Linked DNA regions of Homo sapiens: region 2 is linked to region 1. The links come from fine-mapping of genetic effects on gene expression. A gene starts in region 1. The other region holds a variant in brackets. All regions are shown on one strand. Distances are between the middles of the regions. Region 1 holds the start of ARV1 (ARV1 fatty acid homeostasis modulator). Region 2 has its middle 130 kb from the start of PGBD5.

The links. PIP is the estimated chance that this variant, and not a neighbour inherited with it, causes the effect.
Region 2: its variant is the best candidate, but not a certain one, in a credible set for the expression of ARV1 in lymphoblastoid cells (GEUVADIS, PIP 0.85).

The regions. Positions count from the first base shown.
Region 1 is chr1:230,977,443-230,980,463 of GRCh38, forward strand. It overlaps ARV1 (ARV1 fatty acid homeostasis modulator), which reads left to right and starts at 1,652. Exons shown (of 6, transcript NM_022786.3): 1 at 1,652-1,837. The coding sequence starts at 1,664. TTC13 (tetratricopeptide repeat domain 13) reads right to left here and starts at 1,419. Exons shown (of 23, transcript NM_024525.5): 1 at 1,118-1,419. The coding sequence starts at 1,388. RefSeq lists silencers at 734-1,023, 1,044-1,303 and an enhancer at 1,584-1,883.
Region 2 is chr1:230,298,286-230,301,045 of GRCh38, forward strand. No RefSeq gene overlaps it. Among named protein-coding and RNA genes, the nearest start is that of PGBD5, 130 kb to the right of the region's middle. The variant T/A (reference allele first, on the strand shown) is at 1,453.

The DNA of each region.
Region 1 (3,021 bases):
CCGTGTTACTTACGCCGTTACCAGCTAAGGCCTACCGCAAAATAAAAAAGTCACAAACCTCTCAGTGAGTGACACTTCCTCAAGGAAGTCAGACTGTACTAAAAGGAAATCAGATTGTGCTAATCTTGACGTCTCATCTCAACTAAAAAAAAAAGGTATTGTTTTCCCAGGTACACAATGCCGAAGAAAACCACTGCCAAGTCTTAAAAGCAACCATCTCCCAGTGGGTTCGGTAGACCCCGGTCCTTCCCAAAGCAAGCCATAAGGGAACTCACATAGAGAAGGGGGAAAGAGAAAGGGAGGAGATTGATGGGTAAAAAGACCCACGACAGAACTTCAAAACAAAAAAATGTACACACGTATTTTGTCCCAGAGGCATCTGCTATGATTTATTAAACTGAAGCCAATAGCGCCCATTCTTAATGAATGAGCTGGCGTAGCTCCAATACACACACGGCACTGACACACAGGCTCAAGGCCTGCAGGGGCCTTTTTTCCCTCTGGGAGACACCTGACAGATCGCAGGTTGATCTTAAACAACTGGAAGCAAGATGTCAACGAGCAGATAAGATGGGCTTGCTCTTTTTTTCCATTCCAGGGATCCAATTTTTAGGAACTGTTGTATACGAGACATTAACCCGGGAGGTCAGGAAGCCTGATTTCCAGGCCTAAGATGTGCCAGGCGTCTCCCTCCGGGGGCGGGCTCCGCAAGCCGCCGGGCTGGTTGCTCGTCCGCCCGCCCCTCCCTCGCCCCTTCGGCATCCTCGGGAGGCCGGCGGCGGGAACAGGGCTGCCCCGGGCCACCTGCCATCTCCTCCGCCACCCTTCCAACAGTTGCTTCAGACTCAGGAGAGAGGCCGCCCTGGCCCCAGGAGCATGCTGTCAGCTCATTTCTCGACTCGCCGCCCTGCCCAAAGGCGGCTGCAGGAGGGCGCGCGGCGGCGTGGGTGGCAGCGGCGGGAAGCTGCCCGCCAGGACCCCTGGCCGAGCCGGCTCCCGCGGATCGCGCGCCGCAGCCGGAGGCGTGAGGCCCGGGCGACCCGTACCCCGGCCCGGGACCCCAGCCCCGCTGCCCCGCCGCCCCGGCCGACTCGGACGCCCGCCGCCGCCCACTCACCGCCGCACTCGGCAGAGTACTGGTCCCCCCAGTCCCCGGACTGCGGGCTGCAGCCGCCGCCGCCCGCCGGGGCCTCCTGCTGCTGCCGGTGCTGCAGCTCCTGCTTGAGCAGGGAGAGCGGCGAGTAGTGCTCGGTGGCCAGGGCGCCTGGCCGCAGCCCGGCGGACAGGACCCCCAGCAGCAGCAGCAGCAGGACACGCCGGGCGGCGCCCGCGGCGGCCACAGCGCCGCCCCAGAAGCAGCAGCAGCAGCAGCAGCCGGCAGGTGCCATCTTCCCTCAAGGCGCATGCGCGACAGCCCTTGCCCGGCTCTCAGGCCTCCCCGCCTCTAACCTACGGCGGGCAGGTGGACCGTGGCAAGGGGGCGGGACAAGGGGAGAAGCATTGTGTGCTGGGAATGGTAGTCCCAGCTCGGCCAGCCCGGGGCCGCCTTGCCGGTGCCGGGACTACGAATCCCAATAAGCCCGCGCGGCGCAAGTCTTCCGGTCTGGCGTCTGACGTCTTACCCTCCACAGAATCGGAAGTTCTGGACTGCAGTTGAGTGGAAATGGGCAACGGCGGGCGGAGCGGCCTGCAGCAGGGGAAGGGGAACGTGGATGGGGTGGCAGCGACTCCTACTGCTGCCTCGGCCTCCTGCCAGTACAGGTGCATCGAATGCAACCAGGAGGCCAAAGAGTTGTACCGAGACTATAACCACGGTGTGCTGAAGATAACCATCTGTGTGAGTTGTCAGGTGTGGGGTGCCCTTGAGAAGAAAATGGCGCGGCGGGATTTGGGGACCGCGAGGAGCAGGGTCCTCTGATACAGTCTTTAGTTCGGTAGTTGACATTCCCGCCCGGGATCTTTGCATGAATATCTGTACTGATAGAGAACTCAGCTACCCGACAGCGCTTTTCTCATACTGGGGCATATTTGGGTGATATGACCTAAGCCGGCGAACGGACCGGACCGACAGACAGAGGTAGATGTGGGCATTTTGCAGAGAAATTTAAAGATCAATTAGGTTGACATTTTGGTTCATGCCAAAGCTACTTCCTTCTAGCTCTTCTCCCTTTGACAGAGAGATGGTACCATCCTTACCCTCCACAACCCATGTTGAATTCACCTACGATGCTTTTTAAAGGTTTCATCAATTGTCGTTATTGGATGTCTACGGTGTACAAAGCACTATGCTAGACGTTGGTGGTACAAAACCCAAAAGTGAGGAAGTAAAAATTCTCATTTCAAGGTGTTCGTAGAATACCTTGAACTTTCTGATGATTTTCCATCTCAGAGTTAAGGCCCGAATCCCTGAACTGGCTTATAAGGCCCTATGGAGTCTCCTGCTACTCTTTCCCTTCTTTATTTTACGGCAGAGAGAATAATCTTATGTTTAAAGAGTCTACAAAGTTGGAGGTTCTTTGGGGGTATTAATTAGCAAAGAACCTGTCACAGAATAGACAGTACATTTTTGTCCCATTTCAGATCTTGTGATTTTCTAATCTCTTTAGTAAATTATGGTCTGTAGTAATATACAAGAGAATTGACAAACTGAGTGTATACCTGTATAATCTGCCAACCACATAACGTTCTGATGCATACAACCTCAATTTCCTGTTCCTCTCTCAAGTACTTTCCCTCTTTTGTCAAAATGTCAACCCTTGTTAAATCCAACATATTGCCTGGTCTTGTCCCTGTACCCATGCAGCAGTACGTTGCTGGGGAAAAACAAATTTGTGACGATTAACCTCATATAGGCCTTTCATGATTTCTGGCAATCTTATTTCGGTTTTTTTTTTCTTTCTTTCTTTCTTTTTGAGATAGAGTTTCCCTCTGTCACCCAGGCTGGAGTGCAGTGGGGCACTCTCAGCTCACTAAAACCTCTGCCTCCCAAGTTCAAGCAATTCTCCTGCCTCAGCCTCCCAA
Region 2 (2,760 bases), 680 kb before region 1:
AAGAAAAAACAAACAACCCCATCAAAAAGTGGGTGAAGGATATGAACAGACACTTCTCAAAAGAAGACATTTATGAAGCCAAAAGACACATGAAAAAATGCTCATCATCACTGGCCATCAGAGAAATGCAAATCAAAACCACAATGAGATACCATCTCACACCAGTTAGAATAGCAATCATTAAAAAGTCAGGAAACAACAGGTGCTGGAGAGGATGTGGAGAAATAGGAACACTTTTACACTGTTGGTGGGACTGTAAACGAGTTCAACCATTGTGGAAGTCAGTGTGGCGATTCCTCAGGGATCTAGAACTAGAAATACCATTTGACCCAGCCATCCCATTACTGGGTATATATCCAAAGGACTATAAATCATGCTGCTATAAAGACACATGCACACGTATGTTTATTGCGGCACTACTCACAATAGCAAAGACTTGGAACCAACCCAAATGTCCAACAATGATAGACTGGATTAAGAAAATGTTGCACATATACACCATGGAATACTATGCAGCCATAAAAAACGATGAGTTCACGTCCTTTGTAGGGACATGGATGAAATTGGAAATCAACATTCTCAGTAAACTATCTCAAGGACAAAAAACCAAACACCACATGTTCTCACTCATAGGTGGGAATTGAACAGTGAGAACACATGGACACAGGAAGGGGAACATCACACTCTGGGGACTGTTGTGGGGTGGGGGGAGCGGGGAGGGATAGCATTAGGAGATATACCTAATGCTAAATGACGAGTTAATGGGTGCAGCACCCCAGCATGGCACATGTATACATATGTAACTAACCTGCACATTGTGCACATGTACCCTAAAACTTAAAGTATAATAATAATTAAAAAAAAAAAGATAAAGAACCCAGGGCTCAAGGGGAACCCACGATTGCTCAAGATCATCGTCAATAACAGAGCTTGGTGGAAATTCACAAGTACTGACTCCACGGCCAGAGATCGTCTCTCCACTGGAGAGCGACTTCCTCCCTCTGGGTATGTGGCCTGTCAGTTTGACAACCAGGCCCTGCCTCCACTCCTTTAAATGCAGGGTCAGCCTGAGGGAGGGAAGAGGCAGAAAAAGGGCCCAGAGGTGCCAGATCTTCCTACAGTGGCCCTGTGCCAGGCCGTTCACCCAGAGGGAGGGTCTGCCTTCCATGTGCATCCCAACTGTCCTTTCTTTCTGTGTCTCCACCCTGGCTGTGAGGCTCTTCCCAGCAGACAGATCACAATGGACCTGTCCCTGTTATGATCCTTTGTTTGGTGACAGATAAACTGGGCAAAGTCTAAAGGCTGCCCCTGAGACAGTACTCACGATTACAATGATTTTTCCAGCCGCGTCATCCTTTTAAACTTTCATTTGACTTCCTGTTCCTCACGAGCACAGGGAGAAATGAGGGCTCCGTTCCTTGAACCAGAAACACAAAAGGGAGTTCTCCAAGC[T/A]GATCTGTGCCTGTGCATTTGGCAAGGACAAAAGCAGATGCTCTGATGTGACTGTTTCCTGGTTCTTCCTCTTTGCATTGAAACCTGCTCTCTCCGCTCTTCGGCAAATTCGCCCCGAGGAAGTAAGGTGCTGGGCACCTGTCACCACTGTATTGACTTGAAACTCCTGAATGTGCCCACTGCCCTCAGAATCCCTCCGGGGCCTGAAATCACCTCCATATTGATTTCTTGTTGCTGCTGTAACAAATGACCTCCAACTTGGTGGCTGCAACAACACAAATGTAGTACCTTACAGCTCTGGAGGTCAGAAGTCTGACACGGCCTCCCTGGGCGAAAGTAAAGGTGTCTGTAGGGCTGCAGTCCTTTCTGGAGGCTCTGAGGGAGGATTCCACTTCACACTGTGCCCAGCTTTTAGAGGTGTCCATGCCCCTTGGCTTACATCCCCCCATCCATCATCAAAGCCAGCAACGTTGCACCTCCTGCGTTCTTCACAGCCGTGTCTCCGCTGTAAACACAGCTGGGAAAGGTTCTCACTCACAAGGACCCTTGTGATGACACTGCACCCACAGGATATTCCAGGGTCCTCTCCCTGCCTCACAGACAGCTGATTGCAACCTGAACTCCTCTGCTACCTGAATTCCTGTTTGCTGTGAAAAGTAACATAGGCTTAGGTCCTGGGGATTAGGAGGTGAGCCTCTTTGTTTCGGGGTCGGGGCTCCTCGTTCTGCCCACCACACCTCCCATTAAGGCTTGCCATCATGATGGGCCATTACTGAAATGAGGGTGTTACCTGGGCAGTCGGGGTTTAAGGCCATCCCCACCACTGCGCACCAGCCCGCTGATCATGAGCACGGTGCTGGTCATAGTTTTTGAGACAGGGAGGTCCTAGAAGGCTCCAACAGCAGGAAAGGTAGGTTTCTCTAGCACTCATGGGTGGATGCCTTAGAAATAAGAGAGAAACAAACAGCCTCTGGGCCTTGAGAGGTTTAGATTTCCCATTTGAAGCAGAGGTGGTGTGGAGGGGAGGGCCGGGGCCAGCACCTGTTCAGAAAATGCATTCCCCAGAGATGGAAGCAGGTGACAGTGTTCTCACATTAGTTGTGCTGAGAGAAAAAGTCCTTCGTTCAGCTGCGCCCAAGGCTTTATTCACAGACTCCCGTCTCTCCCAGGGGTGCTGGAAAGACCTTGGGGACCTCCTCACCCTTCTTGCTGGAAGATGCCCGTACCGCAGCGCACGAGACCCCAGCTTTTCCGGGGCGGCTGCACTGTCAACTCAATGCCTAGCAAGGATGCGTCCGGCTGGGCATA